Linked DNA regions of Homo sapiens: region 2 is linked to region 1. A link means that fine-mapping ties the variant in region 1 to the expression of a gene that starts in the linked region. Tissue or cell type: whole blood. Region 1 holds a variant in brackets; the other region holds the start of a gene. All regions are shown on one strand. Distances are between the middles of the regions.

Region 1 (8,108 bases):
TTTGATCAGGAAAATTGAAGCATATGTAGGTATAGGTAGGATATATTTTCAAATCCAGGAAATTAGAGGCTGGCCCACCCCTTGGAGGGCTGGGAATGCAGAGGTCTTGGAAGCTTGCTGATGCACAGAGCTGGGTGGTTTTGAGGCGCTCATTTGCTGTGACATGCAGGTAGGTCTGCTCATTGTCTCTCTGCTGTTGCTGCCAGAGAATGGTCCTTCTTCCTTGTCCACCATCCAAATCTCATGTGAATGTCTCATCTTGATTTATTCTCACTTGGACCATACAGTGTAAGAGGTGATGAGAAATATCATTCTAGGCTCCTCCGTGATTCAGAAACAACAGATGATGTTGGAGGTCGAAAGACTGAGGGTCGTGATCAATTCCGTATACCACTGGGGCTATATGAGTAGGCAGCAAACTGTTTCTCATAAATGCAGAATTTTGGCAGACTGACAAACTGCATCTTCCACCCAGAAGGGATATTGAGGGCAGTTACACCCCAAGCACGATGTTTCTTGTGATTAGGTACATCTGAAGCTTGTTAGTAATCATATGAACCTGTGATCAATTAAGAAGCGGACCAGTAGTTACCTCCTGCTCTCTGGCCATTCTACCCAATAAATACGAAGTGCAGTAGAAGCTCAGGGGCTGCTTTTGCTCACTAGAAGGAGGAGTGCTATTCTTCTTCCCCAGTTCCCCTTCCTATAAAAGTTTCTTTTGTCTTAAGCTTTCATTTCTACGTTTGTCCCTTCATTCCGTCTTGTGATGATGGTTTCAAGTAGTAACAGTAGTAACTGTCATAGTGACAGTCTCAAGTAATAACCATGGCAGTCAGCCAAAAGTGGCACCTGAACAGGGACAAACAGGGACTATCAGAGACAAAAAGAGACCTGAAGGGACCTGAAGAGGCCTGCAGGGACAAATAGAGATAAGGAGGGATAAATGGAGATAAATAGACAAATAGGGACAAATAGAGATAGGTAGGGAAAGACAGGGACTTGCAAGAACTTGCAGGAACTAACAGGGGCTATAGGGACTGAGAGGGACAGATAGGGATAGATAAAGACTAGCAAAACTTGCTGGGACAGATAGGGAGAGTTGGGTCCTAAAGGGACTTGAATGAGGAAGGTCTGCTGGAACAGAAAAAACCAAAGCCCAGAAAAAATTAAAACCAACCAGACGAATGAGAAACCCTGTTACAAGTCTGCCTGCAGCAACATAAGGTCAGGGCCCTAGAGGTACAAAGAATGGGAAGTTTTTGAATCAGGGTAACATGGGGAAGAATTTGGCTATTTCTTCGCTCTTTTGTTTGGAGTTCGGTACGTACTATCTTTTTGTTATTTCAGGGTTTTAGGGAATTTTTTGCCCCACCTACAGCACCTATCAAAAGTAGTGAACAGGAGAGGGAGAATGGAAATTGGCTTGTACCATCTTCCTTTGTGGCTACAGAAAGGCTAACTTTAGCTTTGGCTTTCTGGGATTGTAAACCTGCATTGGCACCTGTGAGATGTGCAGAGAACTTGGGAGGTTTTCTCGGAGCTTGTCGGGATGTGGGAACTGAGCTTCATTGCTCTGCAGTATTGACTCAGACAATGGCTAATTTGGTAGCTGACAGATCTAAAAGAAGCCAAGGGTCAAGCCCTAATGTGGGAAAGTGTTATAAGTGTAGAAAAATTGGACATTTCAAAAAAGAACACTGCCAGACCTCTGGGCAAAAGGGATCTTGTAACACAGTTCCCCTCTTAACAGAAAAAATGCCAGGACTTGGCCCTCATTGCAATAAAGGGAATCATTGAGTTAATCAATGCCACTCAAAGTTTCATCAAAATGGCAGCCCCCTCTTGGGAAGTGAGAAGGGGGCCTGGACCCTGGCACCTCAAAAAATGAGGGCATTCCCTGTCCAGAGAACAGCTTCATTTCAGGGATTGGTTTCCAGAGGCATATTGATTCCCTCTCCCCAGGAACACCTGGAAGCGCAGGATTAGATGGCCCAGTTAGAGAGCAGGTTACGTTAATTGGAAGAAACAAACTCACTAAGATTCCCATTGGCATTTGTGGACCTTTGCCAACAGGATACATGGGATTAATTTTGGGCAAAAGCTGTCTTAACTTACAGGCCCAGGAGTTGGTAATTGGGATTGTGAAGGAGAAATTCAAGCAGTGGTAACGTCACAAGATCTTTGGGTTTTTGAACCAGGAGAATATATTGCTCAACTGTTGCTTATTCCCTATAAATTGTACCCCTCTCTACATAAGAAGAAGTGAGGAGGTCAGGGATTTGGAAGTGCAACTGGGAGAGAGACTTACCTATCACAACCCGTGGCATCTAATAGACCCACCTATACAGTGCAAATCAAAGGAAAGAAGTTTTATGGGCTTATGGATATAGGAGCTGATGTGTCAGTGTGTCAGTAATATCTAAAAACAATTGGCCCCTATCTCGGTCCCTAAAACTATCTTCTACATCCCTAGTGGGAGTAGGAACAGCTCAAAGTGTTCAACAGAGTGCTGAGATTCTGTCATGTCTCAGACTGGATGGGCGGTTCGTGTTTTGTGTCTCAAGGTTTAAAGGAGTCTTTTGCCCTGCACGTTGAACCCACCGGGGGTGGAGGGCAGGAGAGGGAGGATGAGAATTGGCCTGTACTGCCCTTTTCAGTAGTAGAGACACCTGTACTATCTTCTGAAGCAGAAACAGAGACCCTAATAGTTAGGCAGGAATATCATCACCCCTATTCAGCCTGAAGAAGTTACAGAAGACAGATCTTCATCCCTCTGCAACCCTTAGGATTAAGGGTCCTCTTGTAAAGGGGGAGATATGTCAGAGGCATTCAAACCAGGGCCGTTTCACTTGTTTCTGGGACTTCAACAAGCTGTTCACTCTCATGCTGCTCCTTTTCATGTTTCTAATGTTCACCCTCACACACTGCTCCCTGGGCTGCTCTCTTTGGGTGGTGATGGAATGAGAGACTGGAGAAGGATAAGCCTCGATTTGCTCTCTGTGTGCCTTCTGTTAATCAGAAAGAGCCAGCCTCTCATTATCAATGGAAAGTTTTACCCTGCGGTAATTAACCAAAGAGACAGAAGCTGAGTTACAGGTTGCAGAGCAGACGCTTCAGCAACGGCATGCCTCCCGGCTACAGCCACAAAAACTTTTTGCTTCTGCTTTGCTAGATTTACTAACGTGGGGGCGAGGGTATGCTTGTGTTTTCACAGCAAATGAACAAACCATGTGGGTGCCCTCAAGGTGTGTACAACCATGGAACAGGAGATTGGAGGGAACCATGGATCCCAGCCACAGGCCTGGTTCCCCCAGTGTGAGCCATGAGCCAGTTGAATCTGAATGTGAAGACGAACGAACCACCAACCAGCAATTGAAGGCTGCACATTTTGCAATTGCCTTATTCAATTAATTCAAAAACAAAAAGGGAGAAATGTTGGAGGACAAAAGATTGAGGGTCGTGGTCAATTCAGCATACCACTGGAGGCTATATGAGTAGGCAGCAAACTGTTTCTCAAATGCAGAATGTTGGCAGACCGACAAACTGTGTCTTCCACCCAGAAGGGATACTGAGGGCAGTGACGGCCAAGTGCAATGTTTGTTGTGATTAGGTACATCTGAAGCCTGTTAGTAATAATGTGAACCTGTGTTCAATTAAGCAGCTGACCAATCATTACCTTCTGCTCCCTGGTCATTCTACCCAATAAATACGAAGCGTGGTAGAAGCTCAGGGGCGGCCTTTGCTCACTAGAAGCAGGGAGCCCTTTTCTTCTTCCCCAGTTCCCTTTCCTTTAAAATGGTTTCTTTTGTCTTAAGTTTTCATTTCTATGTTCGTCCCTTCATTCAGTCTTGTAATGACGGTCTCAAGTAGTAACAGTAGTAACTGTCATAGTGACAGTCTCAAGTAATAACCATGGCAGTCAGCCACAAGATGATTTGGCACTGCTGAAGCATTCATAGAGCAGCATTCATCATCTATCTGACCTTTTTGTGGGAAATGTTTCCTAGCCCATTCAAGACACTTATGCTCATTGATGCTGGGTATACCCAGGACAAAGTAGTTTTGATCTTGTATTTTGACTACTTGCTATCTGTCTCCTACAGTTATGGCTGATGAAGAACACTTCCTTATTCACCATTGGATTCCAATATCCTGGAGTGTGTGAAGCACTCGTTAAATATTTTTCACCCATTTGGCAGTGGTACATCCCCCTTGCCCTTGGAGAATGGTAAAACTTGGCTCAAGCTGCATTTCCACAGCACACAGAATCCAAACTCCCTCCTGCAGGGAGCTTTCTGCACTCACTTCCTCATCCTTCCCCTACTTCCTCCTGCGTGTGCCACTGTCCTCTGTCTTACCCCATTTCATGCACTTGCAGTTCATTCACTTGAAGTTCAGTTTTCTGCCTAGTTTCCACCATCATAATAGTGATCAGCATTATGTAAGCTTCAGCAGCTTTCCTAGAGATTTTGAGTTACAGGGGAAGGTACCAAAGACAGCACTGGGCATTTCTATACCAAGCTCACTCTCCT[C/T]CCTCTGGCTTGGAAAGAGAAACTGTTTATCCCTCTACACCCAGGAGGAAACAACTCTGGAGTTGCTTAATAAATTGTCATCTTCTCAGGAATGCAGATGACTGATCAATTCCAGGATGTTAGAGAGCCTGACACCCACTGGAGCACTTCCTACTATTGTTTTAACTTTCCAAAAACAAGAAACAGACTGTCCTTTCCCCTTTGCCCTGTGGTGACCAGACATGACCTTCATTTTTGCTTTCTCTTTCCACTCTACAGTCACCAATGAAGGTCTCCTTCTGGCAGCTCTGCCTGGGTCAGATTCTGTTGGTTTTCTCTCCTGGGGCTGTCACTCTGTGGTTGTCAGGTGGCCCAGGATGGGGAATAACTCCCTTCTGTTCCAGTAGGAGGATTAAGACACTTACTTTGAGCTCTGGTCCCAGCTCTGGTCTCTACTCCATCTTTATTAGAAAGTCATATCCTTCTGGTAAAAAGACGGTATTTTGCCTGATTTGATTGAGTTCTTTGTGTGTTCTATGTCCTTCGGAATCCTGCAGGGGAGAAGGGTCTTTGGCACCCTGTCATTTACTAGGAATGTTGGAAATAGGGGAAATGCCTTGAACATTAGGTGTTAGGAATGCCAATTCCCAGGTTCCACTCTACACCTACTTCCTCAGAAAGTTTGTATTTTAACAAGCTTAAATGCATGCTAATGCTAGAGGTTCTTTGAGAATGCAATATTTGCTTCATAGACATATAGAAAAATCAGCTGCCAACATTCAAAAACATTAATAGAATTTTTTCAGCCATGTTAGCCTGAGTACTTTCTTCAGAATGGATTGTCTGCATTTTATCATTTCTCCAATTTCCATGTCAAGGCCCAGGTTTCCAGGTTACTAGACACTAGCGTTTTATACAGAAGTCTAGGTAATAAGATATGGAAACCCACATCCTCTTCTAGGGGAAAAGAGCCAGAGGGGAATGCAGAAAAATAAAGCAGTCAGATGTGTATCCTGAGTTTTGTCTCTCCAGATGTTGGCTCAGGAAATAGATATATTAGATATCAGAGTTCTACCCATCCCTTGAACCTTGGTCTGGGGAGTACTTTCAGAGTAACAGTCTTTCTAATGTGGCTGTGGCCACGTGTAGTTCCTCATTTTGAGGATCTAAACACCTTTACTTTTTGTCTGGTTTTCATCACTCTATGTTGCTTTCCAATATTTTATTCTTTTTAAAAAAATTATACTCTAAGTTCTGGATACGTGTGCAGAACGTACAGGTTTGTTACATAGGTATACACGTGCCATGGTGGTTTGCTACACCCATCAACCCGTCATCTATATTAGGTATTTCTCCTAATGCTGTCCCTCCCTCAGCCCCCCACCCCACAACAGGCCCCGGTGTGTGATGTTCCTCTTCCTGTGTCTATGTGTTCTCATTGTTCAACTCTCACTTATGAGTGAGAACATGCAGTGTTTGGTTTTCTGTTCCTGTGTTAGTTTGCTGAGAATGATGGTTTCCAGCTTCATCCTTGTCCCTGCAAAGGACATGAGCTCATCTTTTTTAATGGCTGCATAGTATTCCATGGTATGTATGTGCCACATTTTCTTTATCCAGTCTACCATTGATGGGCATTTGGGTTGGTTCCAAGTCATTGCTATTGTGAATAGTGCTGCAATAAACATATGTGTGCATGTGTCTTTATAGTAGAATGATATATAACCCTTTGGGTTTATACCCAGTAATGGGATTGCTGGGTCAAATGGTATTTCTGGTTCTAGATCCTTGAGGAATTGCCACACTATCTTCCACAATGGTTGAACTAATTTACACTCCCACTCTTGGGTATACACCCAAGGGATTATATATCATTCTACTATAAAAATGAAAAAGCGTTACTATTTCTACACTTTTACACTGTTGGTGGGCGTATAAATTAGTTTGACCATTGTGGAAGACAGTGTGGCAATTCCTCAAGGATCTAGAACTAGAATTACCATTCGACCCAGCCATCCCATTACTGGGTATATATACCCAAAGGATTATAAATTATTCTACTATAAATGCACATGCACACATATGTTTATTGTGGCACTATTCACAATAGCAAAGACTTGGAACCAACCCAAATGTCCATCAGTGATAGACTGGATTAAGAAAATGTGGCCCCTATACACCATGGAATACTATGCAGCCATAAAAAAGGATGAGTTCATGTCCTTTGTAGGGACATGGATGAAGCTGGAAACCATCATTCTCAGCAAACTATCACCAGGACAGAAAACCAAACACCACATGTTCTCACTCATAGGTGGGAATTGAACAATGAGAACACATGGACACAGGGTGGGGAACATCACACACTGGGGCCTGTTGTGGGGTGGGGGGAAGGGGGAGGGATAGCATTAGGAGAAATACCTAATGTAAATGAGGAGTTGATGGGTGCAGCAAAACAACATGGCACATGTGTACCTATGTATCAAACCTGCATGTTGTGCACATGTACTCTAGATCTTAAAGTATACTAATAAAAAATACATATATTTTTAAAAAGTGTTCCTATTTCTCCACATCCTCTCCAGCATCTGTTGTTTGCTGACTTTTTAATGATGGCCATTCTAAGTATTATGAGATGGTATCTCATTGTGGATTTGATTTGCATTTTTCTAATGAGCAATGATGATGAGTTTTTTCATGTTTTTTGGCGCATAAATGTCTTCTTTTGATAAGTGTCTGTGGATGTTGTTTACCCACTTTTTGATGGGGTTGTTTGTTTTTTTCTTGTAAATTTGTTTATGTTCCTTGTAGATTTGGATATTAGCCGTTTGTCAGATGGATAGATTGCAAAAATTTTCTCCCATTTTGTAGGTTTCCTCTTCACTCTGATGATAGTTTCTTTTGCTGTATAGAAGCTCTTTAGTTTAATTAGACCCCATTTGTCAATTTTAGCTTTTGTTGCCATTGCTTTTGGTGTTTTAGTCATGAAGTCTTTGCCCATGCCTACGTCTTGAATGGTATTGCCTAGGTTTTCTTCTAGGGTTTTTATGGTTTTAGGTTTTATGTTTAAGTCTTTAATCCATCTTGAGTTAATTTTTATATAAGGTGTAAGGAAGGCATCCAGTTTCTGTTTTCTGCATATGGCTAGCCAGTTTTCCCAACACCATTTATTAAATAGGGAATCCTTTTCCCATTGCTTGTTTTTGTCAGGTTTGTCAAAGACCAGATGGTTGTAGTTGGATGGCATTATCTTTGAGGCCTCTGTTCTATTCCATTGGTCTATATATCGGTTTCAGTATCAGTATCATGCTGTTATATTTACTGTAGCCTTGTAGTATAGTTTGAAGTCAGGTAGCATGATGCTCCAGCTTTGTTCTTTTTGCTTAGGATTGTCTTGGCTATATGGGCTCTTTTTTGGTTCCATATGAAATTTAAAGTAGTTTTTTCTAATTCTGTGAATAAAGACAATGGTAGCTTAATGGAGATAGCATTGAATCTATAAATTACTTTAGGCAGTATGGCCATTTTCATGATATTGATTCTTTCTATCCATGAGTGTGGAAAGTTTTTCCATTTGTTTGTGTCCTCTCTTATTTCCTT
Region 2 (8,108 bases), 130 kb after region 1:
AGAGAGCCAAATCATGAGTGAATTCCCATTCACAATTGCTACAAAGTATATTAAATACCTAGGAATACAGCTTACAAGGGATGTGAACAACCTCTTCAAGGAGAACTATAAACCACTGCTCAAGGAAATAAGAGAGGACATAAACAAATGGAAAAACATTCCATGCTCATGGATAGGAAGAATCAACATTGTGAAAATGGCCATACTGCCCAAAGTAATTCATAGATTCAATGCTATTCCCATCAAGCTACCATTGACTTTCTTCACAGAACAAGAAAAAACTACTTTAAATTTCATATAGAACCAAAGAAGAGACTGTATAGCCAAGACAATCCTAAGCAAAAAGATCAAGATCAAAGCTGGTGGCATCACACTACCTGACTTCAAACTATACTACAAGGCTACAGTAACCAAAACAGCATGGTACTGGTACCAAAACAGATATATAGACCAATGGAACAAAACAGAGGCCTCAGAAATAACACTACACATATACAACCATCTGATCTCCAACAAATCTGACCAAAACAAGCAATGGGGAAAGGATTCCCTATTTAACAAGTGGCGCTGGGAAAACTGGCTAGCCATATGCAGAAAACTGAAACTGGACCCCTTCCTCACACCTTACGCCTTATACAAAAAATAACTCAAGATGTATTAAAGACTTAAATGTCAAACCTAAAGCCATAAAAACCGTAGAAGAAAACCTAGGCAATACCCTTCAAGACATAGGCATGGTAAAGACTTCATGACTAAAACACCAAAAGCAATTGCAAGAAAAGCCAAAACTGACAAATGGGATCTAATTAAACTAAAGAGCTTCTGCACAGCAAAAGAAACTATTATCAGAGTGAACAGACAACCTACAGAATGGGAGAAAATTTTTGCAATCTATCCATGTGACAAAGTCTAATATCCAGAATCTACAAAGAACTTAAACAAATTTACAAGAAAAAAAACAAACAACCCTATCAAAAATTGGGTGAAGGATATGAACAGACACTTCTCAAAAGAAGACATTTATGTGACAAACATATAAAAAAAACCTCATCATCACTGGTCATTAGAGAAATGCAAATCAAAACCACAATGAGATACCGTCTCACACCAGTTAGAGTGGCGATCATTAAAAAGTCAGGAAACAGATGCTGGAGAGGATGTGGAGAAATAGGAATGCTTTTACACTGTTGGTGGGAGTGTAAAGTAGTTCAACCATTGTGGAAAACAGTGTGGCAATTCCTCAAGGATCTAAAACCAGAAATACCATTTGACCCAGCAATCCCATTACTGGGTATATACCCAAAGGATTATAAATTATTCTGCTATAAAGACACATGCATATATATGTTTATTACAGCACTGTTCACAATAGCAAAGACTTGGAACCAACCCAAATGCCCATCAGTGATAGACTGGATAAAGAAAGTGTGGCCCATATATACCATGGAATACTATGCAGCCATAAAAAGTATGAGTTCATGTCCTTTGTAGGGACATGGATGAAGCTGGAAACCATCATTCTCAGGAAACTAACACAGGAACAGAAAACCGAACACTGCATGTTCTCACTCATAAGTGGGAGTTGAACAATGAGAACACATGGACACAGGGAGGGGAACATCACACATGGGGGCCTGTCGGGGGTTGGGGAGGCAAGTGGAGGGAGAGCATTGGGACAAATACCTTAAAACCTAGATGACAGGTTGATGGGTGCAGCAGACCACCATGGCAAATGTATACCTATGTAACAAACCTGCATGTTCTGCACATGTATCCCAGAATGTAAAGTACATTAAATAAAAATTTTTAAGTATGCAGCTCCTTCCCATTCTCTCTTGCTCCTACTCCAGCCATGAGATGTGTGTGCTTCCCCTCTGGCTTCTGCCATGATTGTAAGTTTCCTGAGGCCTCCCCAGAAGCCAAGGAGATGCCAGCATCATGCTCCCTGTACAGGCTGTGGAACCGTGAGCCAATTAAATCTCTTTTCTTTATAAATTACCCAATCTCGGGTATTTCTTTAAAGCAGCGTGAGGACGGACTAATACATTTTCTTCACTGCATTTATAAGGATACGGAAGAAAACAATGAACATGCAAAGACTGGAAAGAGAGGAAGGAAGCATTAATACAGGGTACAAAAGGAAGCCGGAGTTCTAGATATAATTCTGAGACTCAAGTGTAGTCAGGGTCTGAGCTTCACCTGGGTTTCCACAACTGATAGTAAGTATCAATGAATAATAATAGGCAACAAAGCCCAGAGACAGTGAGACATAATCAAGAGCTAATAGAAATGTAGAGGAAAATAAAGACAGAAACGGTTACTTTTCAATAGGAAGAAGATCCCAGAAAGCACCAGTAGGAAAGTGGAAATGTGGGACGGGAAGGGATAGTAGCCAATGCAAGTTGCATTAATGAGCACATTACCACTGTATACGGTGATGAGGATGTTCCCACTGCAGACAACTGGGTCTCAGTCCTGCTGGGGACTCAGCAATTTGTATGCAGTACATCACAGAGTTGTCTCACGTGGTGGACAACTTGATAAGTTGTGGTGTTTATCCATAAGTCCTAACTGACATTGATTGAAATCTGCTCCTAGGATATCAGCTCTGACAACTTCAGGCTGCTGCATGCATTACCTACATATACTTTTGTAGTCAGATAAACCCTCTGACAGAGAGTTATGAGTGGCTGAAGTAAGACATCATACACATGCATGGAAACAATAAATGGCCCGGAGCTGTTGAAGAGGCTCTGAAAGCGTCTTTATGAAAGGTACACGTCAAGTATCAAAGACTTATTCAAAGCTGATCTATGTGGCTTGGGCTAGGATGAGGCTAGTGAGAAGCCCTAGGCACCTCACTCTTAAGAAAACACTCACTCCCAGGGTCACCCACCTACAAGATCTGCACTTGGGTGACCTGAGAGTGAGTGCCTCCTTAAGCTGTGTGCTCTAGATGCCCCACCTGCCTCACAATAGCCCCAGCCCTGCCGGTCTACTGGGAGAATGACAGGCTCCCTGTTTCAGCAATGATGAATGGAAACAGTGGACATGTCAGATATCCAGGAGACTCTGTGCCCCCAAAAAGATGGGAAACAGTAAAAGCTGGGTCTCTTCCCTACCAGAAAAAAAGTGGTCTGGCATGAAAGAGGTTAAAAAGCAGATCCTATCCAGTAGGGTAAGACTCGGGTTATTGTCTTCCCCATATACTCCAGAAAGCCAACTCCAGAAAGTTTAAATGAGTTAGGTGAGGTCCTATAGCTGGTTAATGACCTAACCAGATATGCAGCCTGCTCCTCTGTAGCCTTCTTACCACCCAGTGATTCGCTTTTTTGCTGACCTCATGATGCTCTTGAGAGAAGATAGAATAACTAGAACTGGTGATACCAACATAGACGACTAGACTAAAGCCTCCTAATAAGGCTAAATTGAAGATAGTGCGAAGGTGTTCATCCTCAACATACCAGTTCACCCTCAAGTCCTTCAATAGCTGGGAAAGCCCTCCTCTCTCAGAGAATGATAAGACTTTGCCTTCAGGTTTTTCTGGCAGACTGGATCTGGGGCTGGCACTGGCCACATGAATGTCTAATTAATGGACAGATGATGAGAACAGCTATTACGTTATTTGTTCCGGGGCAGGAGACTCTCTGGGCCTATTTTATATGGGGAAATGTCCCTATAGGGCAAAGGCAACTGAAGATTAGCTCAGTAATCAATTTTAGAAGTACAGTCAGGCCTCAGAGACTACAACATCCCTCCCTTCTTAGAGCATGGCAAGATATTTGACATCATGAGGCCCTGCTGGAGACACATAACCTCAGTCACAGCAGAAAGTAGAGTCGGTAGGAGAAGTATTGCCAACCCACAGCTCAATGGGAAATGTTTCTGTCTCTTTAAACCATAACCATGGGGCCCACCCTGAGCTTCCTGATTTCTGAAGTCTGAGTGATTTCCTCCGTGTGCCGAGAGGAAACAGCCTTCTGCACTCACAGCCGAAGGGAAAGCAGCAGGTTGGGGCTTCTTGTGGCCAACTTCAGAGCCTGTCACCAGGAAAGGTGAGCCTGAGCCTGGGAGTGGCGGGGGCTGGGGGTGCTCTGAGAACCAGAAAGAACATGATTCCTAGAGTGTTTACTGCCTGAACACTTGCATTCTACAAGGCATCATGCAGGCGAGCAAGATCTGGAACAATCAAGGACATACTTCCAGGTTTTTAAGTAGGCAAAGTTCAGAGGAAATTTTAGGATCATCTTCTCCAGCTCTGGAGCACACACGTTCTTGGTGGGGAGTGAAATCTGTCTCCTCCCACATTCCCTTAACAAAGTAAGAAAAGAGTGTGCTGGAACCACCTCCAGGAATAAAATACAGTTTGAAAGGCATTAAACATTCCTCAAGCTCCCTATTGAGCAAAGGCAAAAGATATTTCTATGGCCCCATAAGCCATCTAACCTCGGAGTGAGTTACGACGTGACAAGACTGGGTACATTTGAACTCTCCTCCTCACTGTCCACAGAAGGGGCCCCTGAGGAGACATCTGAGATTAATATCTTGGTCTTCAACCCCTTTCCCTGCATGGCCCCTTAAACATCTGCTCCCTTAATTCAAGCTTCTCCTGCTCCAGCCACGGGGACACCTCAAATTCCCATCTGTACAATAAAGGGGGTTGCAAAAATGACTGATGTCCAAGTTCTGAGCTGTGGACATCAGAAACATTTAATTCATGAATCAGAATCTCAGGATGGATCCAAGAGATGTACATTTTTAAAGAACATTCAAGTAATTCTGAGAAGCAGCACATTTGAGCGGTGAAGAACTCAATAAACTTTGCGGTCTCTTAAAGTGTTAGGAATACAGGATTCTATAAGTGTACATTCCTCAATGATTAAGGGCCATTTGTCACCTCAGAGTTCAGCTGGGTCTTACTTTCCTTTAAAAAAAAAAACTATTTAAAATCATTTCAACCCCTCTTCTAAACTATGGAAAATTCCAAAGGCCTATCCAGAATTCTGCAGCACTGGAAAAAGAAATTCTCATTTTCTTGGTTGACAAGGACATTTTGCTTCATCTAAATTCTTTTCTCTGAATCTTGCAACTGTTTCTTCATTTCTGCTTTGATGTCATTTATGATCATCTGTTCATTCCTACATGCAAAATAATTAATCACATAAGGCCCATGGAGTGAATTTTATTGAAGGCTTTGGGGAGGGCCAGTAGAGTTCCTGCAGAAACAGAAACAGCTCTAGATTTAATATGAGGCAAATCTGTTCTCCAAGTCCTTCAATCAAAGACAAGTTACTCAGCCAGCCTCTCTCTCTGCCCCTCCTTCATGTGTGGTGCCAATGGGAGAGAACACAGGTATCCAAGTGACCAGGGTGCAAGACACAACAAGTTTGACATGGATGGTGAGGCACAGACAGATGGTCGGGGAGGATCAATAGTCCTAGGAGGGGAAGCCGAGTGGGTTGGAAAGGCCCTGAAATCTGCTGATTGTGAAGTAGCTGACCGAGTGGGGTATTGTCTGGGAATGAGGCTGGAGACATAGATGCAGGGAGAAGTGAATTTGTGTTCAGGAGCTTGTGTGATTAGGCAAACTGGATCACAGAGGGTTTAGCTGTATTACACAATGTTAGATTTCAGCATAATCACATTTGGAGGGGAAGCAACTTCAGGAGTTGAAGGGAAGTGTTCAAGTCTCTCCAGCACAGATATCGTATTTAGACATCTCTAAACAAACCAAATTATTTGATTTTAAGAAAACAGAGTTAGGGGCCCTCCAGATCTACTTGGGAGATCTGTTCAATTTCCAAAAGAAAAATCCCAATTTTCTTCTTTCTTCCCAGGTCAGCCACTTGAAGGTGGGTGCCTAAGTCACTGGGCACATTTTCTGGTTCTGAGGGTTTACCTAATCTTCCCCCAGCTGCTGAATCCCCTGATATCTCTAGCTTATGTCAGTGATATAGAATCACCCAGGGAAAAGTAATACCTAAAGCCCATTGGCATTGAGTAAATGTTATAACCGACCCTCTGCTTTTTGCTTTTGGAGTTCCTGAAAAGACAAATCTAGCCTCACCCAATGTTCTCACAGCATCCTACCAACTCAAGGGCAGGGTGTTGGCCCTTCCAAGGCCATTCTCTCAAGTTCCGATATAATCCTTACTTAAAGAAGGATTAGCACAATGTATTATATTTGACGAAATTTACCTGTCTTCTCTCTAGCCACGTGCCCTTCTGCCAAGACATACACCTAGATTTTTAGATCCTTGCAAGCAAAAACCATGTCTTTTCACTGTGCTGTCACCAGCTCTTTGGACTTTGCCTGACACCCTGTAGGTGGTTATGCCTATTTGTGGTTATGCCTATTTGAGGAATAAATAAATGAATTAACAAATTGTGTTTGGGACTCTTCCAGGTAAGCATGGGAGGAAGGAAGATGGCGACAGATGAAGAAAATGTCTATGGTAAGACCATATCTCTACACCTCATACTTGCCCCCCTAGGCTTGAACTTAGGGTAATAAGGAGAATGGGGCTTCCTCAAGACTGAACAGAGATAAGTTCCAGAGGTGTCTCAACTCTGGGATGAAACAGCACCAGCCCTGAGATCTGCATTTTAGCTGGATCTCTGCTGTGAGAAGTTAAGTTCTGTGACTAGCCTGCTCCCTTGGTTCCACAGTATAAAATAAGGATAATAAACCTACTCCGATCACCGCAGAAGAAGTGCAGAGGGGATTAAATCATGCACTACAGTGAACATGATTTGTGAGGTAGAATGTTTAGAGAACAAGGATAGAGGGTTAAAACATATATTCTTTTTAGGCAGCCAGTTTAAGAGAGAGATAAGAGAGGAAGGAGAGAAAGAGGGAGAGAAAGAGAGAAGAAGGAAAGAGGGCTTATTTCACCCCCTCAACAGGCCTCTGAGAAACAGGCCCCTATTATCGCTCCCACTTTTGCCGAAGAGGCTTAATACTTAGATTATGCAGCTTCCCCAAGGTTACACAACCAGCACGTGGTGGGGCTGTGATTCAAACCAGGGTATCTGGGACTCCACACAGCTCTTCACTACCAGGCAGTATTGCCCCCACTGCCTGTCTCTGGGGATGGTCTCTGGGAGAATATTTCAGAGTCCATCGAAATTTTCAAATATGAAATAAATATGTCTGCATGTGTGTGGATGACCAGAAATGTCAGATGAACTATTGGGCTGGACTGATAAAGAAGCATTTCTATGATAATCAACTGTAGTTGGAGCATCTACTGGTGCAGGCAGACAACCCAAATACAAAAGGAAAAGGTGGAAATGAACGCCCAGGCGTTCAAATCTCTATTCTTAACCACTTATGCTAAAGGCAAGAAGATTCCAGTTCCCAAGGGGAAGTTGGTTAAACTTAAGTAAGATTATAACACTTGGTCTCACAGGTTTAGAAGAGAACGCTCAGTCCCGGCAGGAGTCCACGCGGAGGCTCATCCTTGTTGGGAGAACAGGGGCCGGGAAGAGCGCCACTGGGAACAGCATCCTGGGCCAGAGACGGTTCTTCTCCAGGCTGGGGGCCACGTCTGTGACCAGGGCCTGCACCACGGGCAGCCGCAGGTGGGACAAGTGCCACGTGGAAGTCGTGGACACTCCGGACATTTTCAGCTCCCAAGTGTCCAAGACAGATCCTGGCTGTGAGGAGAGAGGTCACTGCTACCTGCTCTCGGCCCCCGGACCCCACGCGCTGCTCCTGGTGACCCAGTTGGGTCGGTTCACCGCCCAGGACCAGCAGGCGGTGAGGCAGGTGAGGGACATGTTCGGGGAGGACGTCCTAAAATGGATGGTCATCGTCTTCACCAGGAAGGAGGACCTGGCCGGGGGCTCCCTGCACGATTACGTGAGCAACACAGAGAACCGGGCCTTGCGCGAGCTGGTGGCCGAGTGCGGGGGCCGGGTCTGTGCCTTTGATAACCGGGCCACCGGCCGGGAGCAGGAAGCCCAGGTGGAGCAGCTGCTGGGGATGGTCGAGGGCTTGGTGCTGGAGCACAAGGGCGCCCATTACTCCAACGAGGTGTATGAGCTGGCGCAGGTGCTGCGCTGGGCAGGCCCTGAGGAGCGGCTCCGGCGGGTGGCGGAGCGCG

The links. PIP is the estimated chance that this variant, and not a neighbour inherited with it, causes the effect.
Region 2: GIMAP1 starts here. The variant in region 1 is fine-mapped to the expression of GIMAP1 in whole blood (TOPMed, PIP above 0.99).

What each region holds. Positions count from the first base shown.
Region 1 is chr7:150,582,298-150,590,405 of GRCh38, forward strand. No RefSeq gene overlaps it. Among named protein-coding and RNA genes, the nearest start is that of GIMAP4, 19 kb to the left of the region's middle. RefSeq lists an enhancer at 4,229-4,408. The variant C/T (reference allele first, on the strand shown) is at 4,533.
Region 2 is chr7:150,712,636-150,720,743 of GRCh38, forward strand. GIMAP1 (GTPase, IMAP family member 1) reads left to right here and starts at 3,978. Exons shown (of 3, transcript NM_130759.4): 1 at 3,978-4,055; 2 at 6,407-6,455; 3 at 7,413-8,108. The coding sequence starts at 6,413. GIMAP1-GIMAP5 (GIMAP1-GIMAP5 readthrough) reads left to right here and starts at 3,978. Exons shown (of 5, transcript NM_001303630.2): 1 at 3,978-4,055; 2 at 6,407-6,455. The coding sequence starts at 6,438.